2 separate regions of the Homo sapiens genome follow, and region 2 is linked to region 1. Evidence: fine-mapped expression QTL. A gene starts in region 1. The other region holds a variant in brackets. All regions are shown on one strand. Distances are from middle to middle. Region 1 holds the start of METTL9 (methyltransferase 9, His-X-His N1(pi)-histidine). Region 2 overlaps METTL9 (methyltransferase 9, His-X-His N1(pi)-histidine).

The links. PIP is the estimated chance that this variant, and not a neighbour inherited with it, causes the effect.
Region 2: its variant is fine-mapped to the expression of METTL9 in blood mononuclear cells (TOPMed, PIP above 0.99).

What each region holds. Positions count from the first base shown.
Region 1 is chr16:21,591,731-21,607,342 of GRCh38, reverse strand. METTL9 (methyltransferase 9, His-X-His N1(pi)-histidine) reads right to left here and starts at 7,766. Exons shown (of 5, transcript NM_016025.5): 1 at 7,445-7,766. The coding sequence starts at 7,609. It overlaps LOC101927814 (a long non-coding RNA gene), which reads left to right and starts at 7,958. Exons shown (of 3, transcript NR_110930.1): 1 at 7,958-8,687; 2 at 9,584-9,709. RefSeq lists an enhancer at 6,487-7,051 and a silencer at 7,160-7,779.
Region 2 is chr16:21,613,776-21,629,387 of GRCh38, reverse strand. It overlaps METTL9 (methyltransferase 9, His-X-His N1(pi)-histidine), which reads right to left. Exons shown (of 5, transcript NM_016025.5): 3 at 11,314-11,523; 4 at 4,273-4,457. Among named protein-coding and RNA genes, the nearest start is that of METTL9, 22 kb to the right of the region's middle. The variant A/C (reference allele first, on the strand shown) is at 8,212.

The DNA.
Region 1 (15,612 bases):
CAGCAATTTGGAGGCCCAGGTGGGCAGATCACTTGAAGTCAAGAGTTCAAGACCAGCCTGGCCAACATGGTGAAACCCCGTCTCTACTAAAAATACAAAAATTAGCCAGGCGTGGTGGCAGGAACCTATAATTCCAGCTACTTGGGAGGCTAAGGCAAAAGAATCACTTGAACCAGAGAGGCAGAGGTTGTAGTGAGCCCAGAGTGTGCCACTGCACTCCAGCCTGGGCGACAAAGCAAGACTGTCAAAAAAAAAAAAAAAATTTCTCATTAAGCCCATGAACTCCTCCTAATATTTATATATAACCTTGGTTGATGAATCACTCGTTCAAAGTAGGAATGCAATTTTCCTATAAAATTAGATTTGCTAATCAGACCAAATATGGTTAAAAGTTTTTCTGAAATTATTTTTGGAGTTTATCAACTAATCAAACATGTGATATACAACATATCCAAAATACAACATTCCCAAAATACAAAGGATTTAAGCACACTAGCAGAGTCAGAAAGTAATTTTAAAAACTGACTGATTTTAGATGATGTGGTATAATAAAAAATACATATTTGATCTTTGTCCCAGGTTCCTGATAGAGAGTTCCTAAAACCCTTCGGGAATCTCAGGGTAATAAGAGTATCTTTTGTATGCTAACAGGATGACTCCTGATAGGGGTGGGAGACCCAGACAGCTTCAGGATGGGGACCAGGATGTGGGTATAAGGTTCAAACTTTCAGCCCCACCTTCCAATCTCCAAGGATGAGAAAGGAGTTGAAGACTGAGTCTAATCATGCCTATGTAATGACACCCCTAAACTATGGGGTCCTGGGAGCTTTTAGTTTGCTGAATACATTGATATGATGGTTGGGTGGCTCATCAGAGGAAAGAGAAACTCTACACCACCTCCCACACCTCACCCTATGCACCTCTTCCACTTGGCCGTTCCCCAATTGTATCCTTTGTAATAAACCAGTAAACCTAAGTGGTTTATTATTATTATTATTATTATTTTGAGACGGAGTCTCGCTCTGTCGCTCAGGCTGGAGTGCAGTGGCGCAATCTCAGCTCACTGCAACCTCCGCCTCCACGGTTCAAGCGATTCTCCTGCCTCAGCCTCCCCAGTAGCTGGGATTACAGGCACGTGCCACCACGCCCAGCTAATTTTTTTGTATTTTTAGTAGAGACCAGGTTTCACCCTGTTAGCCGGGATGGTCTTGATCTCCTGACCTCGTGATCCACCCACCTCAGCCTCCCATAGTGCCGGGATTACAGGCGTGAGCCACCGCACCTGTGTTTTCCTAAGTTCTATGAGTCATTCTATTATAGGAAATTAGGGGGTGGGGTGGGGTAGGGTGAAGGTAGAGTTGTGGGAACTCCCAAATTTGTTCAAGGTGGACAAAAGCACTGGCAGCCTGGGAACCCAGGACTTCCAGCTGGCCTCTGAAGTGAGGGCAGTCTTGTGGGACTGAGCTCTTAACTCTGTAAAGCGTGACCCTAACTCCAGGTAGTTAATGTCAGAACAGGATTGAACAATTAAACACCCACTTGGTGATGGAAAATTAGAGAATGGCTGATGTCAGGAAAAAATGACAATACATGTAAGAATCTTTTTTCAACTTTAAGCCTTAAAAAAAGCATGCACAAACCAGATAAAGGCCAGAACTTCAAGCAGCTGTCTTATTCTCATCTAATTCACAAACTACAAAATCTTCAACAAGTATTGTGCACACAGCTACCTAACTTCAGTGTCTACACAGAGGCCTCACTAGAATGAGGGCAGTTTCCTATTCAGAAGGCAAGCCTAGGCCAGGAGCAGTGGCTCACGCCTGTAATCCCAGCACTTTGGGAGACTGAGGCAGGAGGACTGCTTGAGGCCAGGAGTTTGAGACCAGCCTGAACAACATGGCAAGACCCTGCCTCTACAAAAGATTTAGAAGCTACTCAGGAGGCCGAGGCAGGAGGATGTACTGAGGCCAGGAGTTTGAGGCTGCAGTGAGATATGATCAGGCCACTGCATTCCAACTTGGGTGACAGAGTAAGAACTTGTTTCTCAAAAAAAAAAAAAAAAAAAAAAAAAAAAAAAAAAAAAAAGAAGGCAAGCCTATTTTTACCACCCCTCAGACAACACAAGGTTTACCAGGAGGGGCATCATAAAGCAGCAGAAAATGTGTTGCCTTGAAACCAAAGCTGGGTGCAAAGCCCAACTCTATCATCCATTAACTCTGTGCTGGTGAGCAAGTCTCTTCTCTCTCTCACCCTCACTTTTCTGTATGTAAAGTGCGGATGATACCACCAACCTCCAAGAGTTCTATGTGGACTACTGGGGATAATATATTTGAAGTGCCTGGCACACAATAGAAGGCCAGTAGCTCTTCATATTTCCTTCCCCTTTCTCTCCAAGGCAAGGGCTGGTCAGAGGAGAAGTACAGTTCAAGGGAATGCCTAAAAACCAAACTGTAGGTCTAGGCATCCAGCCATTCTCAAAAGAAATGGGTAATCAAAGACCCAAGGCATTCAGGGCTACCAAAAACAATCAGAAAAGCTCCACTGCTCAGGATCTATGAACACAGAATCTTTTCTAAGTTGGCCAGACCAACTCCATCAACAGAGCTTGACAGCTAAGGATTCAAAATTCACATTCTAAGATTTTACAATGCAGTCAACTCAGTCCAGACATTTCACCATGCACACCTTGCATTTAAGCACAGCATAGGCGTAAATATTCAGACCATTCACCATTTTCCCACAAACAATATAAACTCAACCCAATAACCTCTTTATGTGAGATTTCAATGTGTACAGTGACAGGCACCCTCATATCCATGAGGGGAATCAATTAAAACAGATTAAATGGCTTCAGCTTTGATTTAATAACCAATTACTGGCAATCCTCATTGCAAATACTAAATACTCACTCCCCATAGGACAGGATAATCCTAAAATTTTAACAAAGCTTCAGAGGGTCTACACAACAGAGCTTTTTACTGGAAGCTATTAGGGTCTTCTAGGGCACCTTCAAAGAGAAACATAAAGACTCCTGGTATATCCAGCACAAGAAAGAGATTCTAGTGTTCTGTGAAACTGAAGCAAACACTTGGGGTTTCAACACAGATTATGAGGAAGCAAAGAAATCCTTTCTGAAGTCTCTTTGGTATTCAGCTGCAAAGGCCTCCAGACTCTCGAAGGCAGTTCAGAGAAGGACGCCAATCCATCAGTGTCTGTCCGGCTTAGCTGGCTGACTATCCTTGAAGCATTGTTAACTCATGCCTGACTCCAGTCTGCCTCCACAGGGTAAGTGAGGGGTAAAGGGACAGGAAACACTCTGTCCTTTAGCACAGTGTTTGGCTCTGGCTATGCTGTCCAAGTATTTTTTCATTTGGGGGAAAAAAAAGGATTTTAATTCTTTCTTGAATTCTTCATCACTTGTGGCATAGCGCAGTTCTGAGCTTATATAAGAAAGTGAAAAAATAAGTCACAAAAATATACACATACTTGCAATTTTAAGTTACAACTTAATAATTCCAGATATTGAATGTTATCTGTGCTTTTAAAAAACCTTGCAGTATGTCACCCGGAGAAATCGTTGTGGTTTGGTTCAGCGAGTTCTATAACAATTTTTTCACTCCATCAATTGAGAAGCTACTGAACCGCTATTATTACCAAGAACCTGGGGCCTAAGGGTCCTTTCAAAGTTTCAGTAGCTCCATAATAGTTGCATTAACTTTAAGCACTAGGTGCAATGCATCAAAAAGAATAGATCCTAAGTTTTTTGTTGTTGTCTTTTTAAATTCTGAGTCTGCCAACATTGCAAAGTGACAATATCTACTAGTTTCTCACTGCCTGCCTCTATTTCTTCCCAGTGAGTCAATCTACCCACCCTGCAACCTGTGATTAAGAATATGCTGTTGGAGGCTGGTTGCAGTGGCTCACTCCTGTAATTCCAGCACTTTGGGAAGCCGATGTGGGAAGATCACTTGAGGCCAGGAGTTCAAGACCAGCCTGGCCAACATGGTGAAGCCCTGTCTCTACTAAAACTACAAAAATTAACCAGGTGTGCTGGCACGTGCCTGTAATCCCAGCTATGGAGAGGCTGAGGCATGAGAACCGCTTGAACCCAGGAGGTCGAGGATGCAGTGAGCTGAGATTGTGCCACTACACTCCAGCCTGGGTGACACAGTGAGACCCTGTCTCCAAAAAAAAAAAAAAGCTGTTTGTTAAGGAAGCTGGGAATTTCTCTTGGAAAAAGTCTTTATTCTGTAAGAAGCCACGTAGTAAATGTTTTAGGCTTGCAGGCCATACAGTAGCAAATATGCTGCTATTGTAGCCAGGGAGCTCATAGACCACAGGTAAATGAATGTGGTAGTTCTCTTTCAATAAAACTTTATTTGTGGGCTGGGTGTAGTACCTCACGCCTGTAATCCCAGCACTTTGGGAGGCCCAGGAAGAAGGATCACTTGAGGTCAGGAGTTTGAGACCAGCCTAACCAACATAGTGAAACCCCATCTCTACTGAAAACTACAAAAATTATCTGGGCGTGGTGGTGTTCACCTGTAATCCCAGCTACTCGGGAGGCTGAGACATCAGAATTGCTTGAACCTGGGAGGCAGAGGTTGCAGTGAACCAAAATTGGGCCACTGCGCTCCAGCCTGGGTGACGAAGCGAGACTCCATCTCAAAAAAAAAACACTTTATTTGTAGACACTGAAATAAATTTGAATTCCATAAATGAAACTTCATGTATTACAAAATGTTATTTTGATATTTTCTTGGTAACCATTTAAAAATATAAAACTATTCTTATTTCATAGGCTGTAAAATAAGTCTGTGAGACCAGTCTGGCCTCCCAGCCACTTCCCTGCTCTAAGTGAAACCCTGCTTCTTGCTTGCCCAAAGTGAAACATAATCCCAGTTTTGAAGCTAGCACACCAAACCAAGTTACTAAAATGGCACTGCTACTACAGTTTTAGAGCAGCTTTAGCCCAAAGGAGCCTTGCCTCTCCAAACTATACTAACAAAATAGCCATTTTTAACGAATAAACATTGCCCAAGATCTCTCTTTTAACCACAGAATCCTCCATCATAATTCCTTAATAAAATAACCAGAAGGAACACTTTTGCTAAGTATGGTTCAATCAAATCCACAACCCTACTTTTATGCAACTCCAAAAGGCCCAGATGTGGCTGGCTATGGAACTCACACACCCAACTGAACACTTAGAAGACCTTGTATAAAACTATTAATCTGAAGGAGGAAAAACAGTTACAGTTACTTCACAAGCAACGAAGTTATAAGGCAAACCCAGGATCCTGGAATATTAAGTGGAAAACAAATTATCAACTCCAGCCACAGTGCAGAAAGGACAGTTTCCTACTTTATCTCATGGTGGTTTCTACACACCTTTCTTCTGTTCCTTTTAATCTTTATTCATGCACGATTATTTTCATAATATGAATGTATTCATGTCAAAATAATGTCTGGATTCATTATTCTAAGGAAAAGAGTTGACCCATCCCCCAAATATTCAGAAAACACCATATTAAGTCTTCACCCTAAAGAAATTATCTGCTGAATTGTTAGTGAAGGGGTACACACACACACACACACACACACACACACACAGAATATAAATACGGTATCTGAAATAAACGTATCTGAAACCAGTATTAGTTTTCATTAGAACTTAACAGATTCAGCTTTTAAAAGGTACAGTCAGAAAGTATCCTCTGCTGGGAGATATTCTGAGGCTATGTCTACAGCTGCAATTCCGCCTCCATACACATCACAGTGTTGAAATAGTGTTTCAATTTTAAAATAAGTGCAATTCTTTTATGAGCACTAAAAACCTACCAAGTGGCTGCAGTAGGGGTAATCATGATAAGTGTTATAAATACCAATAGCTAAGAGACTCAACCATAATCCCCCATCAATGGAGATAAATCGCTTTTTCTCCTATCCAGGACCTTATTTCTATCAACTGCTTAAAAATGTTAAAAATGACATTTCTAATTCATTGTCTACCCCATTGTTCCATATGTGACATTCTGGTAACTGTACAGTCAACGGTACAGTACCTTTGAGTTGTCTCTATAAGAATGAACTAGTGTAAGCAAATAATCCATAGGAATAAATGTGGTTTTGCAATTTAAGTTTACATACATTCCTAACCATATCATACAAGTGATCAATGATACTGATATTGCACCTAACAAACTGCAATGGCTGGAGGCTTTCAAAAAAATTTACAGAAATTTAGGATTCCTTTAACAATAGAAAAAAGCCCAATATACATATTACTAAAGACTAAATGCTACTTTTCTAAATTGCTCTATCTCCTTCTTAGACAATTCTCTACCCTCATTAAAACACATGAAATCAACCTGGGTGTAAATTCTCTGAACACCTGGCATAATAAAAAAGTAATGTAGGAAAATGAGAAATATATGAAAATGATGAGACACAAGATGATATAGGGAATAATTAATACTCTATGGAAAAGCAAAATGTATTATAAATGCTAGCTATGACAAGCCAACACTCTGGCAGAGTTCAAAAGCCTCTTTTCAATGAATTTAACATTAACTGCAAACTATGTTAAGGTCATATACGAAATATCTCACTTAATTCTACAGTTAACCTGTACACGTTTAAGTGGCGCAAGACTGAGCTAATGAAAAGCCTACCTACCCGGTCACAGCGTAACGCTCACGATGCATAACTAAAACTCCCTCCCGTCCCGTTCTGTTTTAAAAACCCTTCCTGTAAAACTTGCATAATCTTCCTCCTCATCACACACAATCTTTCTAGCAGGCTGACTAAATCCAAGTTTAAAGGAGATCTCTGCTAGGTAGGAGGGGAAGGTTCCGTAGGATGGGAGCGACAACCTGTCAAACCCATTTTTTAAGTGCTTAGGGAGAAATGTCACCCCAATCAGCCTGGAGAGTTCAATGGCTTGCGATGTACAGTTACATTTCTTCACGACCCTTTGTACGTTCTGGGATTCAACGAGACAACAAGAGGGGCTGGCTTTTCGTTTTGTTTCTCGGGGTAATGGATCTGGCCGGGTCTCTTCAGTCTCAGGCCTCGGTGCCAGGCGGGCGCCCCCAGCCACGCTCTGGCCCCAAAGTTCCCCAGTCCCGCTGCCGGGCGTCCGCAGTCACCGCCCGGGACCCAGGAACAATGCGGGGCTCCGGGCCGCTCACGATCGGGCCCGGGAGGCCATGCCCCGCCTGCGCTGCGGAACAAAAGGCGCTCGCGGGGCCGCGGCCGGGTGCCCGGGGCTCGCGGAGTCGACGCCCGGCGGGGAAGGCGCGGGGAAAACTTTCCAAGGGGCCGAGGCGGAGGGGCGAGGGCCGGGCCGCCCCCTCGCGGAGCCGTCCCGCACAATAGCCGGGCCCAGCGCGGGAAGGCCGGGCCGCCACGCCCCCGCCCCGGCCCCGGCCCCAGCCCGTACCTGGTGGTTCTCCTTCCTGCCGCCCGCGGCCGCCGCCGGCCCACCCGGGCCGCTAGTCATGTTCACGTACAGGGAGCGGGTGAGCGGGCTCCGCAGCGTCCACATCCTCCGCGCCAGCCACACGGACGCCAGGCTCAGGCACAGCCAGCCCGCCAGCAGTCTCATCGGGGGCCGCGGCCGCTCGCTCGGATCACCGCCGGCGCCGGGGCGAGGAGGAGGAGGCACCGCCGCCTCCGGCCACCGCCGCCACCGCCCGAGCTCGAGCCATCGCGGCCGCCTTGCCCATCCAGCCCCCTTCAGGGCAAAGGCTGGGGGTGGGGAGGAGCAGCCGGCGCGCAGCCTCGGCACCTCCCCCTTCCCTTCCGGCCGCGGAACGCCGCTGCCCCCTGCACCAGTTTCCATCCGGAGCACTTACGAGCGGCCGCGTCGCTTTCTCCCCCGGCGCCCTCCCTCCGTCCAATGAGCGGGCCGCTGGGAGGCGGGACAAAGGGAGCGCGCATCCGCCCGGAGCGCGTTCTCGTGTCCCGGCCCTGCCTTGGCCTCTAGTAAATGGCGGAGGTGGTTTTAATTTTTTTGAGGGCTGAGGAGATCACTTCCGAAGGCGGTAACTGCAGCCTCCCTGCCCCTCCAAGGTGGTGCTGGAAGGACCTCCAGTCTTTCCTCGCCTCATCCCACTCCACGGCGGGACTTTGACAGGGTTACCTCTCGACCCTCATCCCACTCCACGGCGGGACTTTGACAGGGTCGTGCAGTTAACCCCGGGGGCGCAAAGAGGGGAGTCATTCCTTTCGTGCATCCTGACACACACAGGTTCTTCCCGGAGACGAATGGTGCCAGTGATGGTTGCCCGCTCGGATGCGTAGTTTCCAGTTTACATTTAGAACCGACCTGCCAGACTCCCTCCTCTACTCTCCCCACCACCACGACCCGCCTGCCCCGTTCCCCAAGCCTGAGAAGTTGCTGGCTACGTGTTTCTATAAAGAATGAGTGAAAATTCTGCCTTTTGGGGAAGCTACCGCAGCTGGGGTACCCACAAGTAATGTTTTAGATGTATTGATGGCCCTGCCCAAGAATGAAGACCTCAAGTTAGACTCCTTGGCTGCCTTGTTTCCTTGAATTAGCACAGGGAAGTTGGACCCAACACTCTTAAGAGTGAACTCAGCTCTGGGAGCAGTGTTTAACCCGGATATTTATTTGATCATTTATAACACGAGGAGACCTAGCAACATTTCAGAACTGAAGGGTTAGTTACACTGTGTTCCTGTCTGCAGTTCTTCCTGCTATTATCCAAGCCACAATTAAGGAGTAACATTTCGTGGGAGTCCCTAACTTTAATACTTTCCTAGGTTTGTTTGGAAAGTGCTTTTAATTTAACTGCACCAGAAATAATGTAAATGTGTCTAAGTTCAAAACAAAAGAAGTAAGCCTTTTGGTTAATTCAGCGTTGCACATCAGAGATTTTCATTTATGAAACAGTGGGGTGGTGAGCCACAGATGGGGAACAAAATCATTCCTTACCCAACAGCTTTTTTTTTTTTTTTTTTTTGAAACGGAGTGGAGTCTCGCTCTGTCTCCAGGCTGGAGTGCAGTGGCTCGATCTCGGCTCACTTCAAACTCCGCCTCCCGGGTTCAAGCAATTCTTCTGCCTCAGCCTCCCGAGCAGCTGGGACTACGGGTGCGCGCCACCATGCCCAGCTAATTTTTGTGTTTTTCGTAGAGACGGGATTTCACCATGTTGGCCAGGATGGTCTCCATCTCTTGACCTCGTGATCCGCCTGCCTCGGCCTCCCAAAGTGCTGGGATTACAGGCGTGAGCCACCGCACCTGGCCCAACAGCTCTTTCATTAGCTTTTAAGAATCTCAGCTTGGCACCTTTGGCTAACAAGGATATCTTGTTGCCTAATGTAACAGGCTGTAACAACAAACAAAAAGGCACAGGGTGGGTGGGGTTCGGTATTTTGTGTTCTCTCTTTCCAATATACTCCCTGACTGCTTCCTGCCAAAACCCCGAAAAGCCCAAGCCTTACTAAATCTAGTTCAAACCTCTAGTGGTCCTGGCCCAAGTCATCAAAAAGGAACTATGGTAGCAAGTCCAATAACTGTTTATTTACTATGACACCTCTCCTTCCTGTCTCTTAGGATCAGTGTAACAGACAAAGCAACTCTGTCACAAAAGGAAGCCTTCATCTTTTTAAAGTGGGGGTGAAAGCAGCAGGAGTGCATAAAATGGCATATTTCCTTTCTGAAGACAAAGGAGACAAAAAGGTATGCCCCAGCTATAGAGTGAGACCACATAGCTGTAGCTGAGAGACTGCAAAATGTTATCAGATGAACAAGCAAGTAGATGGCTGCTGTAGTCAGAAGGATTTTGGGGTCAGTTGACTGCCACGAAGCCTAACAGCTCAAAGGAGCAGATTTTGTTTTATATCTGAGCAGCTGGCCTAGAAAAATAAATCACTCATACATTTAAAATACTCTATAATAACCACCAAACACTCAAACCCATGCTATTTACATTTAGCAGGCACAGGAAGAAACCAGAGCATCCGATGATCAAATGATTTGCCTGAAGGTAGCAGAGTAAATTCAATAGCTGACCTTTTCATAGAACTTGGTATCCCAGCTCGTGGTCTTTCGATCCATCTAAGAAGCTTTGCTGTCTCTTCTCAGAGAGCCTCCTGAATTACAAATGAGGAGAAACGAAAACAGCAAGAGTAAATATACGAAGCAGAAGTTCAGATTGCCCACTGGGGACAGCCCCCTTCCTTCATCTACTAGAATGTCACTACCGTATATTAAAACCTCAATTCTCCATAATGGAGACGGGAAGGGGCAAGATGACACAAAAAGCCAAATAGCCAATACTCGTTCTAACATGATCTTGAGATGCAGTTAGTAATATTCAAAAGATACACAAATGACCCTCTGCACCGAACTCTGCTCATTGACCCCAGGTGTCCCACTTGGGTCACAGCCCTGTACACAGGCCCAAAATTTTGGCGGGATCACTTTCCTATCTAGATCTCTAGGCAAAGGCTTTTTGTTATTGTTGTTCTTTGAAGTTACAAAGCTTGGCATTTTCATATTCTCTTTTCAATTACAAAGTATCATGTTAAGAGAATCCACAAGCAGAGAGTTTGGATCTGTACAAAACCTATTGATGATTGTTATCTCCTTGAAGAGATAATGATTTAAAAAGAACTCATATAGACCAGGCAGGGTGGCTCATGCTTGTAATCCCAGCACTTTGGGAAGCCAAGGCAGGTGGATGGCTTGAGCCCAGGAGTTCAAGGCCAGCCTGGGCAACATGGAGAAACCCCGTGTCTACAAAAAATACAAAAATAAGACAGGCGTGGTGACATGCACCTGTAGACCCATCTACTCAGGAGGCTGAGGTGGGAGGATCACCTGAGCCTGGGAGGCTGAGGCTGCAGTGAACTGAGATTGTGCCACTGCACTCCAGCTTGGGTGACCCTGTATCAAAAAATAAAAATAAAAATAACTCATATAATCACTTTTTTTTTCCCGAGATGGAGTCTTGCTCTGTTGCCCAGGCTGGAGTGCAGTGGCACGATCTCGGCTTGCTGCAACCTCTGCCTCTCGGGTTCAAGCAATTCTCCTGCCTCAGCCTCCTGAGTAGCTGGGATTATAGGCACCTGCCACCACGCCTGGCTATTTTTTGTATTTTTAGTAGAGATGGGGTTTCACCATGTTGGCCAGGCTGGTCTCAAACTCCTGACCTCGTGATCCGCCTGCTGCAGCCTCCCAAAGTGCTAGGATTACAGGCGTGAGCCACTGCACCTGGCCATAATCATGTTTTTATGGACAGATATTTTTTATGCTTCTTAATATTGTTTTGTATACCTTCAGAGAAAGATACAGCTTTTTCCCAGTATATTCAATAGAATGTGTCCTGTAGTTATTAAGCAATGAGCACCTCTAACAAAATTAGCAAATGTACTCAACAATTTGTTTAATTAATTAACGTAGGAGATCTTTATCTGAATTTAGTTGATACAACTTCAATCCTGTGCAATGATATCACTGTGGGCTCCAGTTGATGAATTCTAAGTCAAGGCAAAACTGCAGACAGCTTTGAAAAAAAAAAAATTAGTAGCCTAGGCCAGGCACCATGGCTCATGCTTGTAATCCCAGCTACTCAGGAGGCTGACACAGGAGAATCGCTTGAACCCAGGAGGCAGAGGCCGCAGTGAGCTGAGATCATGCCACTGTACTCCAGGCTGGGCAACACAGTGAAACTCCATCTCAAAAAAAAAAAAAAAAAAAAAAGCCTCAAGTAGCAGAATTGAACCAGGGGTTAGAAGATGTTAGTAGTTGGCCAGGTGCGGTGGCTCACACCTGTAATCCCAGCACTTTGGGAGATTGAGGTGGGTGGATCACAAGGTCAGGAGTTTGAGACCAGCCTGGCCAACATGGTGAAACCCGGTCTCTACTAAAAATACAAAAAAAATTAGCCAGGGGTGATGGCCTGCACCTGCAATCCCAGCTGCTCATGAGGCTGATGCAGGAGAATTGCTTGAACCTGAGAGGTGGAAGTTGCAGTGAGCTGAGATCACACCACTGCACTCCAGCCTGGGTGACAGAGTGAGACTCCATCTCAAAAAAAAGAAGACGTTAGTAGCAAATACAAGTAACATCGTGTGCTTCATTGGAGAACTCCCAGTGCTACTCATTAGCATGGTAGTTTATCATCTGCACTTTGAGCCAGACTATCTGGGTTTTAAGCTGGGCTCTATGCTTCTTGATTATGCAATTTGAGGCAAATTATTTGACCTCTACATGTCTGTTTCCTCATCTGTAAAATGGAAATAATAATAATGGTTACCTATTTCATAAGGATGCAGTGAATATCATGTTATATACTATAAATATAAAGGGCTTAATAAGTGCCTCAACATTTAGTAAACACTCAAAAAATGTTAATTTGTTTTCACTTTAACTTGGGTAAATCAACCTCATCTGAGCCTCTCTTTCCTCATCTGTAAACTAAGAGCCATGGTTCTGAGCTGTCTGCTTCACAAGACGTGTGTGAGAATTAGATGATCTGAGAGTTTTTTAAACTGCAAAACATCAACCAAAGTTATCATAATAAAGATGCTCAGTCCTAATGTAAAATGCCCACGTGAGGGATCTAGGTGGCCATCCTGTAAGAATCTAATGTCTGATGATCTGTCAGAGACTTTGGTCTCTGCAAAGCTACTCTCTGTAAAACATTCTCTTAGAACCCATGACGATAGCATCTCTTAATAATGTGTCTATCTTCACACATGTGTCTATCCTCATGACATTTCAAACTGAGTGGGGAAAAGAATATAAAACACAAAACTAGGCTGAGGTGGGAAGATCATTTGAGGCCAGGAATCCAAGACCAGCCTGGACAACATGTTGAAACCCCATCTCTACTAAAAATACAAAAATTAGCTGGGTGTGGTTGTGCAGGTACTTGGTAGGCTGAGGCATGAGAATCACTTGCACCCAGGAGGCAGAGGTTGCAATGATCTGAGATCGCACCACTGCACTCCAGCTTGGCTGACAGAGCAAAAGTCTGTCTCCAAAAACAAAGTAAAACAAATAAACACAGAACTATAAAAAAAAAATTCAAACCTAAAAGCAAAATCAGCTGGGCACAGTGGCTCATGTCTACAATCCCAGCACTTTGGGAGCCTGAGGCAGGCAGATGGCTTGAGCCCAGGAGTTCCACACCAGCCTGGGCAACATGACAAAATCCTGTGTCTACCCAAAAAAAAAAAAAAAAAAAAAAAAAACTACAAAAATTAGTCAGGTGAGGTGGTGTGTGCCTATACACCCAGCTACTCAGAAGGCTGAGGCAGGAGCATCAACTGAGCCTGGGAGGTCGAGGCTACAGTGAGCCATGACCACAGCACTGCACTCCAGCCTGGGTGACAGCACAAGACCATGTCTCAAAAAATAAAATAAAACTCAGGGAGTAAACTCAAGTTACCTACTTGTCAAAGATGCCTGTCTTTTTAGTAGGAAAGTCTTTTCCCCTCTGATATATAAAATTCTTCCCAGCTGGCTCACCTATGTACCCAGTCTGTACCCGCCAGGGCATTTCACCTGCTTACAGAACCTTTTGAACTCCCATGATTTCCTCCCTCATCATTCGCACATCTGTTTGTTTATGTCAGCAATATTAACCAAAAGACAAAGAAATGCCACTTTCACATATGCAATAAATATTTATTGGGTACATGGAATATACCAGGCCCTGGATTTACGGGAATAGAAAGCAAAATAAACACAATGTCTCACCTTCATAGAGCTTACCGTCTAGTAAGGAGACTGACCCGAATACATAATTACAAACTGCTGAGAGCGAGAAAGGATTTGTATACTGTTACGAGAACTTGGACAGATCTGACTTAATTAGGCGTGGAGGGCATGAGGGAAGGAGAGTGTTCAGGGAAAGCTGCCTTGAGGAAATGTGCTTTGTGGTCATTTTGACATCCCCTTGCCAAACTTGAAAGCTTCCAGATTTCCCAAGTTCCTCCTGGACTACAGGTATCCCCAATAATTGTGACAACAGAAATGGAGATAGTGCAGGACAGGCAAGTCCCAAAGTGGTGCTTAGCCCTCTGGGTTCTTGGCTTTATCAGGAAGGAATTCAAAGGCAAGCCAGAGGTAGAAGAAAACAGCTATATTGAAGAGGCTGTGTTACAGCTCCATGACTGCTCCTGCAGAGCAGGGCTACCCCATAGGGAGAGAGTAGCAGCTGAGGGTAGTTCAGTTCTGTAGCCATATTTATACCCACTTTTTTTTTTTTTTTTTTGAGATGGAGTCTCGCTCTGTCGCCAGGCTGGAGTGCAGTGGCACGATCTCAGCTCACTGCAACCTCCGCCTCCCAGGTTCAAGTGACTCTCCTGCCTCAGCCTCCTGAGTAGCTGGGACTACAGGCATGCGCCACCACATCCAACTAATTTTTCTATGTTGAGTAGAGACGGGGTTTCACCATGTTGGCCAGGCGGTCTCGAATTCCTGACCTCATGATCTGCCTGCCTCGACCTCCCAAAGTGCTGGGATTATAGGCGAGAGCCACTGTACCCAGCCTGTACTTGAAACTAAAAGTGGGAGGCTGGGCATGGTGGCTCATGCCTATAATCCCTGCACTTTGGAAGGTTGAGGTGGGTGGATCATGAGGTCAGATGTTCGAGACCAGCCTGGCCAACATGGTGAAACCCCATCTCTACTAAACATACAAAAAATAGCCAGGTGTGGTGGCAGGCGCCTGTAATCCCAGCTACACAGGAGGCTGAGGCAGGAGTCGCTTGAACCCGGGCGGCAGAGGTTGCAGTGAGCCGAGATCGCATGTCACTGCACTCCAGCCTGGGCAATGGAGCAGGACTCTGTCTCAAAAAATAAATAAATAAATAAATAATTGCATGTAGATTAAAGAGCTGTTTATGCAGAAATTTCTAGGGAATGGGCAGTAACTCCTAGGTCATTGGATCACTGCCATGGAAAGTGACAGTAACTGTCGAGTGTTGCCATGGCAGTGGTAAATCGACATGGCACACTGGTGAGCATGTCTGATTAAAACTACTTTCGCCCAGGCCCTGTTTTGGCTAGTTCTTAATCTGGTCCAGTGTCCACTCCAGTGTCCGAGCTCAACCTCTGGAGTAGAGTCCCACCTGCTACCTCCGACTGCTCATCAGAGCCTTCTAGAATGTGAGGAATCCCAGTGTCCCTCACATACACTCACAGAGTCCTGGAGAAAACGAAATGAGTTGTCTGGGCAGCTGTCAGCACAATCCCCTATATATATAGTCAGCTCTCAGATAGTAGCTGTGGTGGTTATTATGGAATCATAAGGCAGATGTAAACCTAGCTCTCCTTGGACAAGTTACTTAAGCAGTCCAAGAGATGAACAGCCATCTACTTTAAACTTAGTCTACTATAAGACAAATTAATTAGGGAGAGTCCTTCAACCTAAATCCTGGGCTCCACCAAATGAATCAGTTTCTCCAACAGAACTGTGTGAATTAGGCATTTTATTTTATTTAATTATTATTTTTTGAGACAGGGTCTCTGTTGCCCAGGCTGGAGTGCAGTTGCACAATCTCAGCTCACTGCAACCTCCGCCTCCTAGCTCAAGCGATCCTCCCACCTCAGCCCCCCAAGTAGCTGGG
Region 2 (15,612 bases), 22 kb before region 1:
TTGCATGGCAGAAGGTAGAGAGAAGCAAGGTCTCTCGGAACTCTTAAAAGGGCATTCATCCCATTCAGGAAGGCTCTGCTCTCATGATCTCATCTAATCCTAATCACCTCCTAAAGACCCCTTCCTAATACCATCACGATGGGGGGTGGGGGCCTCAAAATATATATCTGGGAGGAACACAAACAAACACGCAGTCTATAACACAACTTTAAGAGGGAAATGTAATCACAGCACTTTGGGAGACTGAGGGGGCATCACTTGAGGTCAGGAGTTCAAGATCAGCCTGGCCAACATAGCGAAACCCTGTCTCTACTAAAAATACAAAAATGAGCCGGGTGTGGTGGCACACATCTATAACCCCAGCTACTCAGCAGGCTGAGTCAGGAAAATCACTTGAACCCAGGAGGCGGAGGTTGCAGTGAGTAAGCCAAGATCGTGCCACCACATTCCATCCTCGGTGACAGAGTGAGACTCCATCTCCAAAAAAAAAAAAAAGAAACATCTCAAGCCAAACAACAGCAACTTCAAGTAAAAAAAAAAAAAATTAGCATCATATTTAAAGTAGTAATATTTTCATTAAAGTTAGAAACAAGGCCAGGTGCAGTGGCTCACATCTATAATCCCAACACGCTGGGAGGCGAAGGCAGGCCAATCACTTGATTCCAAGAGTTCAAGACCAGCCTGGACAACGCCGCCAGACGCCCTCTCTACCAAAAAAATACAAAAGTTAGATGGGTGTGGTGGTATGCACCTGTAGTCCCAGCTACTCAGGAGGCTGAGGTGGGAGAATAGCTTGAGCCCAGGAGGTCAAGGCTGCAGTGAGCTGTGACAGCACCACTGCACTCCCGTCTGGGCAACAGAGCAAGTCCCTTTCAGAAAAGAAAGAAAAAGAAAGAAAGAAAAAAAAGTGGGGGAGGACAGGGGAGGGTGTTTTGTTTTTAAACATTACTAAGCAAATTGCTATCTAGAGACCTCCTCTAGTAAAGTTATACATCTAGTGGTGTGCTGGTAAATGTGTAACTACCAGCTTGGAGAAGAAAATGGCTATTTGCAGTGTTTGCCAATTTCTATAGTGTAAATACTCCCATCATGGTCAATTTCAATAATGGCCATGTTTAACAACCAGTTCACTTAAATTCCTACCAAAACAACAATCAGCTCTCATGAACCAGTCCACGCCAGCTCCAGCATCTACAGCTTACATGTAGACAACCATGTGGAGACATATGTGCTGGTAAGAACTACTTTCCTAGATACATTTAAGTGGAAAAAGGCAACAGAAGTTATTTATAATTGGGAACTGCCTGTATAATTTTTTTAATGTACATACAGACTTACATTTACATAGACTATCTTTTAAAGAATATTCAAGAAACCTGAACAAGATTGTGGAACTGGACTGGATGAGAAACTTTTTTTGTTTTGTTTGTTTTTTGAGATGGAGTCTGGCTCTGTCACCCAGGCTGGAGTGCAGTGGTGCAATCTCGGCTCACGGCAAGCTCCGCCTCCTGGGTTCACGCCGTTCTCCCACCTCAGCCTCCCCAGTAGCTGGAACTACAGGCGCCCACCACCACACCCGGCTAATTTTGTTTTTATATTTTTAGCAGAGATGGTGTTTCACTGTGTTAACTCAGGATGGTCTCGATCTCCTGACCTCATGATCTGCCTGCCTTGGCCTCCCAAAGTGCTGGGATTACAAGCATGAGCCACCACGCACAGCCCAGAAACTTTTTATTGTAAACCCTCTAGTAAGTTGCTTGAAGTATTTTTTTTTAATTACTGAATTACTTTTTAATAAAAATTACAATTTTGAAAAATTAAACATCATTAAATTTTTATTTTTACAATATAATTATCCTTCTCTTGACTTCATATCTTTCCTTCTTTGGGGGGTGCTTAAAATAATTCTCACTAGATTCAATAACCCCTAGCCAAAACTGGGTCAGTAAACCAAATAAACTGAAATTAGAATGGTATTTTTTTCATTTTTTTTCCAAATAGCAAAACTGCTGTGGTTCAACTTCAAGCCATTTACCAAAACAATTACCTAAGTAATCATTTCACCTACAACTACTTTTAGTTAAAAAAAAACAAATTAAGCCAAGTATGCAAAGCACACTCAGATATCCTCCAACAGTCCAGCATTCATGAATCTACACAGCAAAACCATTTTGCATCTCCCAGTCCTCATGGTTTCACATGGAAATCATCAGGATCTAATTAGTGACTCAGAGAAAGAAAGCAATAATAGAGTGCCGTGGCGCGCCTGCAAAATTTATAGGTCACTAAAAGTCACCCATAGCAACAAGGCTTCTTGTCTCAGGTCTGCAGTGTGTCACATGCCAGACTCCTCAGACTCAACAGGCAGCTCTGCACATCCACAATCAAGGAGCTTGTTTTCCACACTTCATGGAGACTTCCCTCTTGTCTAGTTTGACTTCCTCTCCATTTTTAGCATCAGAAACACAAGGAAATAAAATTCGTGGTTAGATTGATGTTTCTTCCCCCTGCTCTTTCATCTCCTGCTATGCCAGGAAGTAGCATTAAAGTTCTATCATGCGGTTGCCCAACAGGACACAGGAACCCAGGACCTTCCAACCTGATGACTAGTGAGTGCAATACAGAGAGCTGGAGCTGAGGCTTAATTACACAGGAAGGAGTAGCACTGAAGTAAGATCAGGTTGCTGAATCACGAAGGAGGACATTTTGCAACATATAGATGATATATATACACTCACATTTAAAAGCATTTTTTCTTTACCATGACAAACCACTCGACAACAGGAACATAAAAATGGAGATCTAAGATGGGAAAGGGGAGATCTGTTCTCTCTGCTCTTTTCCACACCCTTCTATATCGAAAGAATTCCCCATTTTCCCCATTATCAACACAAATCTGAAACCATTTGGTAAATATTAAGACAAGCATTAAATCTGAAGGCACTAAGATCTGGGGAGAAAAAACACATACAAGAAATTAAATTAATTTGTGACACCACAAATCCACACAGAATCCAATGGTTATATGAAACGGGCATTATTCCTTAAGACATAGATTTTCATATTTGATAATAATGACATTTGCAAAATCCTAATAGATTTCTTCAAAATGTCTGTGAGCTCTTAAGAGTTTCTGAAGTCAAGGTCAATCGAGGCAGTGAAATAGAAAATCTGAAGATTTTTCAGCCAGGGATGGTGGCTCGCACCTGTAATCTCAGCATTTTGGGAGGCAGAGACAGGAGGATCACCTGAGATCAGGAGTTAGAGACCAGCCTGGTCAACATGGCGAAACCCCATCTCTACTGAAAATACAAAAATTAGCCAGGCATAGTGGCATGTGCCTGAAGTCCCAGTTACTTGGGACTCAGAAGGCTGAGGCCGGAGAATGCCTGAACCCACGAGGTAGAGGTTGCAGTGAGCCAAGATCGCACCACTGCACTCCAGCCTGGGCGACAGAGCAAGGCTCTGTCTCAAAAAAATAAATGAAACACTGAAGATTTTTAAATAGTAACTTGTATTATTCATAAAATAAATAATTTTATATTAATGTACATTAACTTATGAAAATGCAGGAGACTTAAAATCATAACTTTCAAGATGACCTAAAATGCAAACCACACAAACTAAAACTATAACTTAATGTGGCATTAAGTCAGAATGGCCAGAAGTCACAGTAACTATGAAGTGATATGAAATCAACCCGTTTCTTCTAACATATTCTTCATTCAATATTGCTGAAGAGCAAGACCATGCAATCAAAAAATCAAATGTTACAGAAAGAAATGATACATGCTGCAACAACACACATGGTCTTCAAAAGAGAAAAAAACAGATAAAAGCATTTATCATTTTTAGAGTCTGGCACAAGAGATGCAAAACGGAAAACAAAACAGCCATGACATTCAGCAAGTATATACGACCAGATTTAAAGGCACTGTTTATTGCTCGATTCAGTTGTAAAGCTAATAAATAAATGGTTCAAGCTCCATTTAAAACCAGAGATACAGTTGCATTTTTAGCTTTCAATCTCAAGCAGTCAGACCCAGCTAAATATTAATTATTACCACTGCAAGGGGAATGCTAGACCTCTATAAAGTCCACCTTAAGGTGAACATTAACCAAGATGGTGTTTTACATGGATTAACTGGATTACTTTAAACTGCAGGCTATTATAAGACATACTAGACAATATTTAATTGTACACAGCACAAAATCACAAATACCAATAAACAGCTATCCTCAGTAAGAGCTAGCCTGACTGACCACACTTACCGTTTTCCACATAGGGATGAAAGGGGAGGACAAGGGCAAGGATGACCCTGCCTCTAGTTGGCTCCAAGACACTTCTGATATCTTTTAACAAAGTCAGGGGCTGATCACAGCGGTCCAGCAAGTTCAGGCAGCTGATGACATCATACTGGAACCCCGTATTCTGCCATTCATTTATACCAAGGACTCTAGAAAAATCAGAAATAACTGTATTAACATAAAGTCCCTCTAAAGACATCTTTAAAAATAACTGAGATGACAATAAAGGCTTTAACTTTGTCTTCTAAATTAAGTTCAAAATCTTCTGTTATAATTTATGTTTGCAATAATGACATGGCCAAGGAAGAGAAAAATAGCAACCATTTTTTTTTTTTTTTAATTTTTTCTTTTTTGAGACACAGCCTCACTCTGTTGCCCAGGCTGGAGTACAGTAGAGCAATCTCGGCTCACTGCAACCTCTGCCTCCCAGGTTCAAGTGATTCTCCTGCCTCCGCCTCCCCAGTAACTGAGATTACAGGCAGTTGCCACCATGCCCGGCTAATTTTTGTGTTTTTAGTAGAGACGGGGTTTTACCACATTGGCTAAGCTGATCTTGAACTCCTCACCTCAAGCGATCCGACTGCCTCGGCCTCCCAAAGTGCTGGGATTACAGGTGTGAGCTACCACGACTGGCCCATATTTCTTTAAATTTAGCATTTCACCTATTTCCAAATCTCAACACATACGAAGTTTCCTTTACAAGAACTAATCATGTTTAATAAGTATGAAGATGTAACCTGACAAAGTTATGAAACTAAAACATCAAATTCTTTTGAATATCAGTTAATGAACAAGAGTCCAGCTTTTTACCATTCATTGGAACTTAATCAAAAAATGCATCATATAATTAATGTTTTCTATTCCTAGGATCCCTTCTATTCTTAAAAATGGCTGGGAGTGGTATAAAATAATTTCCATTGATAACTTATGACCTTTGAGCACATTTCCGTTCCCAGGAAAGACATATTTCATACTTGAGAATCTTCATATCTGAATAACTATACAGAAAAGGACCGGGCACGGTGGCTCACGCCTGTAATCCTAGCACTTTGGGAGGCCAAGGCAGGCGGATCATGAGGTCAGGAGATTGAGACCATCCAGGCCAACATGGTGAAACACTGTCTCTACTAAAAATACAAAAATTAGCTGGGTGTGGTGGCGCGTGCCTGTAATCCCAGCTACCCGGGAGGCTGAGGTAGGAGAATCGCTTGAATCAGGGAGGCGGAGGCTGCAGTGAGCCGAGATCACATCACTGCACTCCAGCCTGAGGACAGAGCCAGACTCCATCTCAAAACAAAACAAAACAAAACAAAAACTATACAGAAAAGATAAAGCCCAGGACATCCTATTAACATTAAGAGCATGGTTTAAAAAAAAACCACTCTCGATCCTCAATCTCTCACTTTCATACACACGTACACAGAACACAGAGAACATTTTCAGTCCTCTACAATGTTGTTATCTCTAGAAAGGGGGAGTTTTTATATCAAGAGTCTTTGTTAGCCACACAATTAGGCAATTTTACAAATTACTTACTCCTGCTTGGTTATACCAATCAGAATGTGGTAGGTGAGATATGTTATGATAGAGACAGGTAAAAAAGGAAACATAAAAAAAGGATCTTTGGTAAACAAGTCTTTAGTAATGTTGAGCAGATACAGTAAGATAGCTCAGAAAATTCTAAAAGTATAATGAGGGTTGTTTTGAAAACCTCATTAGCATAATGATATTTAGAGCATTTCTGAATAGCAGAATTTTAAAAACACAAAGCACTTAGCTGCATTTTCTTTTCAATCTATATTTTTGTCAAACTAAAGCCTCTTCCAAATAGCAGCCTAACAAACTTCCAGGGACTAGTCAGATTCCTTACTGGTGCAGGTGTTTCATTGCACTAAATACTGTTTGAAATAAGTAGAGCATTCAGGCTTTAAAATCACTTTGTTGTACTAAGTCAACTGTAATAGCAATTTTGGAAATTCAATTTAGCTCATTCCAAGAGTTTCCAAACATTACTAAGAAGACTACTTTCAGAACAAAAATGTCATCAATTCCCATTCTAAAAAATGGAAATGAATAAAGAAAGGACTATTTGTATATATTAACGCCTTAGCTAAGCAGCCAATTTAAAGACACAAATTGTAAAACACAAATTATATATTTGATTTTTAAAAACAAAACAACAAAAAAAATCTGATGTCTATCTGCAATGAAGCAGAAGCCAAACATCATCAGCATGTTCTAATCTAGAATAATCTCACTAAACCTACCTCAGAATGAGTTTCAGATAGGTAGCCTCTGTGTTGGTAATTTTGGAAGAGAAATATATGCTCATAACACAAAAAGGTGACTAACACTAAGACAGTTAAATCTATACCTATAGAAGCTCAAGTGCATTCTTACTTCTGTTTTGTGATTTTTATTTGTAAACTCACTCAGTTCCACTGATGAAGACAAATTGCTTAGCCCCACTAAAACTGCGTATTAGCCCAGGAATCCTAACAAGTTGTCAGAATTTTCCTTTTTCTAAAACAGTATTTCTAAACCTAGAATGAGGGTATCTATTCAAGTGATTATTATTTTCAAGAAAATGAGTTAATACTTCCAGAAGGATGTAAAATATATTTCTCCTTAGAGAATGATAAAGCAGTCAGGTGCAGTAGCTAACATCTGTAATTCCAGCACTTTGGGAGGATCGCTTGAGCCTAGGAGTTTGAGACCAGCTGGGGCAACACAACAAGACCCCATCTCTATAAAAAATTAAAAATAGCCAAGGATGGTGGCACACACCTGTAGTCCTAGCTAAGCTACTTGGGCAGCTGAGGCAGGAGGATGGCTTGAACACAAGAGTTTGAGGTTACAGTGAGCTATGATTGTGTCACTGCACTCCAGCCTGGACGACAAAGCAAGATCCTGTCTCAAAAAAAAAAAAAAAAAAAAAGGCCAGGCATGGTGGCTCACACCTATAATCCTAGCACTTTGGGAGGCCAAAGCGGGCAGATTGCCTGAGCTCAGGAGTTCAAGACCAGCTGGGCAACACAGTGAAACCCCATCTCTACTAAAATACAAAAACTTAGCTGGGCGTGGCAGCATGCGCCTGTAGTCCCAGCTACTCGGGAGGCTGAGGCGGAGGCTGCACAGTAAGCCGAGATGGCACCACTGCACTCCAGCCTGGGCAACAGGGAGAGATTCCGTCTCCCAAAAAAAAAGATGCCTTGCCATCTCGGGTTGGGAGAGCTCTAAACTTAGGAAATAAGCAATCTGTATTTTGATAATTCCTAAATAAAAAATGAAACACTAACAATATAAAGAAAACTGTCTTGCTGTAAAAATCAAAACCACATCCTTTAGTTTTACAATTGGGTTTTCTGGCATAAACAATGACAACTTGCGAATACAAAGGAAAAACCTGGCCATTTTCTGTTTATTGACCTATTTTTGAAATGCAGAAACTTTGGCTGGGCGCAGTGACTCACACCTATAATCCCAGCACTTTGGGAGGCCAAGGCGGGCGGATTGCCTGAGTTCAGGAGTTCGAGACCAGCCTGGGCAACACAGTGAAACCTTATCTCTGCTAAAATACAAAAAATTTAGCTGGGTGTGGCGGCATGCGCCTGTAATCCCAGCTACTTGGGAGGCTGAGGCAGGCTAATCACTTGAACCTGGGAGGTAGAGGTTGCAGTGAGCTGAGATTGTGCCACTGCACTCCAGCCTGGTGATGGAGCGAGACTTTGTCTCAAAAAAAAAAAAAATTACAGAACCTTTATTTAAAAAGGTGTGTTTTGCTCATGCCTGTAATCTCAGCACTCTGGGAAGCCAAGGCAGGAGGACTGTTTGAGGCCAGGAGTTCAAGACTGGCCTGGTCAACATAATGAAACTCCTGTCTCTACACACACAACACACAAA[A/C]ACACACACACACACACACACACACACTCTCTCTCTCAAATTAGCCAGATATGGTAGCAGGCACCTGTAGTCCCAGCTACTGAGGAGGCTGAGGTGAGAGGATCACTTGAGCCCGGAAGTTCAAGGCTACAGTGAGCTATAATCACGCCACATGCTCTAGCCCAGGTGACAGAGAGAGACCCGTCTCTAAAAATATATATATATAAATTAATAAAAAGCCTGTTTTTCATGGCCCAGATATTGAAGAGAAATAGAAAATAGCTCTAATCTCAAAAGGAAGAAAAAAATGTAAAATTCAGCTGAAAGTCTGCCTTGCCATCTTGGATTGGGTGACCTCTAATCTTAGGAAATAAAGATACTACTTCCTCATTAAAACCTCAAACTGCACCAATAGTCACAAAATTTACCACTTTTGTGAAAATGTTTTCACTTCATACTAATATTATGAAAGGAATGCCAATCAGTATGAATTTCCCATGCAGGTCAAACTGCAGATTTTTGGCTTATGTGCTGTATATTAGGGAAAAAATTAAACCAAGTATTTTTTATGTGGTAGATATCTTTACATACCATGTACACTCCAGATATATTACTAATTTCAAACATCTGAAGTTTCCCTGAAAATTCCATTTAGGCACTTAGCATCAAAGCAAAAGAAGGCTGGGGCGGTCAATCATCTGAAGATGGGTTTAACACCTTCCTCTTCGACCCACTTCAAAGCATGGATTTTTTTAAGGGGGGGAGGTGGAATCAGATTAGGAATTCAGCCTGACTTAAGCCACTGTTATAACAAAGGTCAAAGCATTCTAAGTTTTGAAATGCCGAATTAATCTCTAACTGAAGGAAAACATGTCAATTATCACCATGCAGACCCACCAGAACCTTATCTGAGACAGCTTGCTAAAGCTAAGGGGCTTTCAAATCACTCAGTTCAAACTCACACCTTCCTTATGTCTCTTCCTATAACAACCCTAACAGCAATTTAAACACTGACAGTGATAAGGACTTAAACAGTTCAAGCTAGGAAGGTCGATCTCCCTAAGCTGTAACTCAACTTCTAAGGCGTAGCTGTGCCTGATTACACCAGAGACTATACCTATTCCTTTCCTTCCATATAAAAATCCCACAGCGTATCTGTTCACAGAAATCTTCCCTTCTCCAGGCTAAAAATCTCCATGTTTTGCAAATGCTCAAACCAGTCCTGCTCCAAAAGCTACACTGATGCTCTATCTCTAGGATTAATCTGTAAAAGTAGAAACATGTGGATAGGAAAGTGAGTGATTACATAATTTCTTCTCCTTTCTTTCTAAGGCTAACCAGACTTCCAAAAATATCACAGAGAAAGGCTGACTCCAGCTCTACCTCCCTGATTCTGCACTGAGCCAATATATAGAAATCTCCCAATCAATAAATCATACTGAAATAAGAATACCCTTCTTCCAGCCGGGTGCAGTGGCTCACGCCTGTAATCCCAACACTTTGGGAGGCCAAGGCAGGCAGATCACGAGGTCAGCAGTTTGAGACCAGCCTGGCCAACATAGTGAAACCCTGTCTCTACTAAAAATACAAAAAAAAAAAAAAAAAAAAAATTAGCCGGGCATAGTGGCATGTGCCTGTAGTCCCAGCTACTCAGGAGGCTGAGGCAGTAGAATTGCCTGAATCCAGGAGGTGGAGGTTTCAGTGAGCTGAGATCACGCCACCGCACTCCAGCTTGGGCAAGTGAAACTTCATCTCCAGAAAAAAAAAAAAGGCCCTTCTTCCTAGTCTTTCAAACTCCAGATGACCTTAAAACCAAGATTAACACTGATGACTATAAACTAAAAGCAAAACAAAACAGAAAATAGCAAGTATTGTCAAGGAGTGGAGAAACTGAAACCCTTGTACTACATTGCTGGTGGGAATGTAAAATGGTGCAGCAGCAATGGAAAAGTATTGCAATTCCTCAAAAAATTAAACCCAGACTTAGCCATGTGATCCAGCAACTCCACTTCTGGGTCTATACCCAAAAGAAGTAAAAGTAGGGGCTCAAGTCGGTATCTGTACACCCATGTTCATAGCAGCATTATTCACAACAGCCAAATGGTAGAAACAACCCAAATATCTACTGACAGATAAATGGGTAAACAAAATGTGGTACATGCATACAGCGAATTATCATTCATCCTTAAAGAAAATTTTGGGCCAGGCGCAGTGGCTCACACCTGTAATCCCAGCACTTTGGATTACTTGAGGTCAGGAGTTCGAGACCAGCCTGGCCAAATAGTGAAACCCTATCCCTACTAAAACTACAAAAAAATTAGCCAGGCATGGTGGCATATGCCTGTAATCCCAGCTACTTGGGAGGCTGAGGCAGGAGAATTGCTTGAACCTGAGAGGTAGAGGTTGTAGTGAGCCGAGATCGTGCCACTGCACTCCAGCCTGGGTGACAGAGCAAGACTCCATCTCAAAAAAAAAAAGAAAAGAAAAGAAAAGAAAATTTTGGCCCATGGTACAACATGAGTAAACCTTGAAGACATTATGCTACATGCGATAAGCCAGTCACAAGGAGCTAATGTATATAATTCCTCTTATACGAAATACCCAGAATAGTCAAATTCATAGACAAAGTAGAATGGTGGTTGTCAGGGGTTACGAGGAGGGAAAAATGGGGAGTTATTGTTTATTGGGTACAGAGTTTCCGTTTCGGAAGACAAAAATTTCTGGAGATGAATAGTGGTGATGATTATGCAACAATGTAAATGTACTTAATACCACTGAACTGTACACTTAAAAATAGTTACAACAGTAAATTCTATGCTATGTGTATTTTACCACTACTTAAAAAAATTTTTTTTGAGAATGCCACATTCTGATTAGGGAAGAAGTCCCTTCTTCTGATCTGCCTTTTCCAAGTTGTCTCTCGCTAGTGCTTTTCTTACCTATAGTGCCAACCCCTCCGCTCCAGAAAAATACTGCTACCAGAAGATTATTTCTCTACATTTCCAGTTAATTATGTATGAGATGATTTTTTAAATTTCTAATCATGGAAGATCATTTTTTATTCATATCCTTTAAATAATATACTTTCAAGAAGAAATGCATCTAAAACCAAGAAAATTATACCTGTATTTCTTTTTCTGAAGCTGCCATATCATAGTTTCAGAAAGCTCAGTGGCATAGATTTCTTCAAAATGAGGGCTCATGATTTTTGTGACTTCTCCATCTCCAGCACCTAAATCAAGAAGTCTGTGGGTTTTCCAGTCTGGATTAATTTTAAGCAGTCTCTGAAACTGATCTGGTGAAAACACAAACATTGAGCCTCTTCCTAGCAACCTGAAAGAAAAAAAGGACAAAAATGGAAGTGTCTATGCAAATTAAGCACCCCTCACATACACACACAAAGTGAATATAGTGACTCAGCACCAACAACCATAATCACTTATTACATGGTTAAGATTTTTTTTTTTTTTAGACAAGGTCTCACTCTGTCACTCAGGCTGGAGTGCAGTGGCATGATCTCGGCTCACTGCAACCTTCGCCTCCTGGGTTCAAGCGATTCTCCTGTCCCAGCCTCCTGAGTAGCTGGGATTACAGGCATGCACCACCACACCCGGCTTATTTTTTGTATTTTTAGTGGAGACAGGGTTTCACCATGTCGGCCAGGTTGGTCTCGAACTCCTGACCTCAGGTGATCTACCCGCCTCGGCCTCCCAAAGTGCTGGGATTACAGGCATGGGCCACTGCGCCTGGCCTAATTTTTTTTTTCTTTTTTTTTTTGAGACAGAGTCTCGCTCTGCCGTCGCCCAGACTGGAGTGCAGTGGCACGATCTCTGCTCACTGCAAGCTCCGCCTCCCAGGTTCATGCCATTCTCCTGCCTCAGCCTCCTGAGTAGCTGGGACTACAGGCGCCCGCCACCACACCTGACTAATTTTTTGGATTTTTAGTAGAGAAGGGGTTTCACCATGTTAGCCAGGATGGTCTCGATCTCCTGCCCTCGTGATCCACCCGCCTCTGCCTCCAAAGTGCTGGGATTACAGGCATGAGCCACCGTGCCCAGCAAAGATATTATCTTTTATGTCATTTCTATGATTAGAAGACAAAGTTAATAAAATAAGAAAATGCCTCCAGATACCATTTGTCTTTGGAGTTGCAAATAATGCCCCAAAAAAGCATGGGAGGAGGGAAATAAAAGGTGGAAAGTGGAAAGGATGACAGGGGAAGGAAGAAGAAATAAGTAAGAGATGAATGTGAAGAACTTAAGTCAAAATAGGAAGGAAAAGTGGAAGGAGTAACAGAAAACATGTTTATCAGTTGAAAAAGATGACAAGCTAACACAGCCAGACCACAGTAGCAGAGAAACCAAATAGGAAAAAAAAGTGATTTCAAATATGGAACTAAACCATGGATCAGGAAAAAAGAGCTTTAGTATAACAGATTTTTAAGAGACACTAGAGAAAAGAGGGAAAAGAGTGGTCCTTGTGATGTCGGTTAATATGCATTAAAGTAGATTCGTACTTATGTCAGTTTATATGGTTACAACTGTCTGGGTCCTATTATTTCTAAAGGTCCTAGAAAACACTCAAAACCATAGTGATGCCTTTGAAAAAAGAGACTGAGGGGAGTTTAACTGGAGATTGAAGAGAACCCTCAGAAAAGCAACTATAGGTCCAGCCAAGTCTCATGGAAGCATCACTCTGGGAAATAAAGCGCAATCCCTATTTAGGACTTGTTTTCTAGCTCTGAAATTCTAGTTTATCTAGGACAGGGATTCTCAACCCTCCTTTAAGCAGCAGAACCCTTTCTTTAAATGAAGTGGAACTCACAGATAACATAAGATCCTAAGAGAGCTGCTGCTGTTCGAATGAGGTTGGGAGCCCAGGAGCTGTGGCCAGCCCACTTCTAGGCCTTTCTCTGCAGCCTGAAGCAGTTCCTGAGGCACTTCCTCCTCAGACCCTAGAAAACAGTTTGGGGACCACTGGTCCAGGAAGTGGCAGGGAAACCTGTTCTGTACTGCTGCTCTCTGGAAACAATCATAAGGTACAGAATGTTTGCTGCTATACAGTGACTGGAAAGATGCATGCAACACGGTGCCCAAGGTAAGACCAGTTTTAGGAAAAAATACAAATAATGGAGTTCATGTAACAAAGTCCCCCTTCCTTTTCCCATTAAGGCCATAGGAGAGTTTAACCAAGTTTACAGTAAATCTTCTGCCCCCATAGAAATGCTAAAAATTTGGAGAAAGACCTCAGAGACCACTAAACGTGATGCTACCGACTACAACTGCTTACCAAAGAAAATCACGTCTCATAAAAGACAAGTTGTTTTAATCCTCAATTGTTCATATATTACAGTAAGAAAATAAGCAAATCTGAACTTGCTGAAGTAGCTGTACAAAATTTAACACAGAAACCAGTCACAGCAGAAAGAGGCTACTGGCAGCATGGCTGAGGGGAGGCGAATTTCAAATACTGATGCTGACTTGCCACAGGACCAAAAGTAAGTCACAAAATAGTTATTTTGCTTAAATTTTCCCAGAGCGTGCTTCCCAAGCCATCTCCTTGGGATGTGAGGAATCTTGACATGATAATTATAAAATTCTAGAACAAGAGGTCACCTGAGCTCAGAGCTCACAAGTTCATCTGACTGGTCTACATTTATAGGCACTAGAGGCTGGGCATGGTGGCTCACGTCTGTAATCCCAGCATTTTGGGAGGCCGAGGTGGGAGGATCTCTTGAAACCAGGTGTTTGAGACCAGCTGGGCAACATGGTGAAACCCCGTCTCTATAAAAAATACAAAAATTAGCCAGGCACGGTGGCATGAGCCTCTAGTCCCAGCTACCTGGGAGACTGAGGCAGGAGGACTGCCTGAGCCTGAGGAGGTCAAGGCTGCAGTGAGCCATGATTGTGACACTGCACTCCAGCCTAGGCAACAGAGCGAGACCCTGTCTCCAAAAAAGAAAGAAAGAAGGCACTAGAGAAAGAGGGGAAGCATTGTCCTATTTCGAAAGAACATTAGCAACAGGGGCTCTACAAAAAGATTAACACTGTCAAAAAATAAATCAAAATCCATCAAGCCCAGTGTTTATCAACCAGGATTGATTTTGCCCTCTAGGGGGCAATGGGAGTAGACAGGAGAGTTTCCAGTAATCACAAGGACCTGGGGGTACTACTGCCATTTAGTGGGCAAGGCCAGAAAAGTTAGACTTCCTGCAGTGTGGGGGGCAGTCTCGCACAATGAAAAACAGTATCACCTAAAATACTGAGCCCAATACAAAGTTTCCCATAAACACAAACCATGAAGAGATATGACCCTCTAATTTGGGTTTAACTTTAGTGTTTAATAACCATCCTAGGTTCTCTGATCACAATCTAAGTTCTCTCTAGACTTAAGAGTCTACGGAGAGATGCACCTCTTCCTTATAAAATAAACTCTGGAACATCTACTAAGTCTTTCCTTACTTGGCCTTCTCCTTTCCAAAATAAAGGAAGTTTGATAAGTATCCTAAGGTAATACAAGACAGTACTACAGTAATGATTTCTGTGAGAGATGGCCACCTGTAGTAATTATCTCCCACTGCCATGACCGGAAAGTACTGATGGGCCCTAAAATTTAGTTTTTAGCTGAGAATGGGACACAAGGCAAGAAGGACTGAAAGCAGGGTGGGTATCAGAAGGAAAAAGCAGAAGAGTTTTAAGTAAGGGAAGCCAAAAGGGGTTTATTAACTGCATTGCCTCTTTGATCAAACTGTGAAATTCTAGAGCACGGAATTTTAACCAGGGTCTTATGGGTAGAGGAAAGGGGAAATAAAAGTTTGAAGCCCCCAAAATCATACACAAAATGTTGAATGTAAGCACTTTTTGAAGAGAGGATTCCTACCTTTATCACTTTCAAAGAGCTACAGGACCCCAGAAAGGATAAGAATCTCTGCTACAGTGACTCATCTGAATTCCAAAGGAAGAATAAATGGTATAGAACAGAAATTCAATATAACCAATTTAAGGAACAAAATGTCAGACCAAGTTGTATCAACTCAACCACCCATATAAAAATAACAACTGTTTGCCAAAGCAAACGTATGGCAATTTCACATAAACAATGAAGAAAATCAACTGAGAAATCTTGAGAAATGGCTTGCGGTGCCTGAAGACTTAGGACCAGATGATACACTGGGGATCCAGTCAGTCAGTAGAAACTGCTCCAAACCTCAAGGGAAAAGAAAAGTGGGCCCAACCAGTGGTTTGAGTGGTCCAATGAGGCTTCTTAACCATTGAGCCTGTTGCTTTTCTCTTTGGCATTTTAGATTCTAGGTCCTTAGGAATGCTTGAAAACATGGCCAAGAAAGGATTGAAAAAAAAAAAAAACAAAAAAAACTCCTAAAGCTTTTTCTATGGATTTATATGAGGGAACCACTCTGGGGAC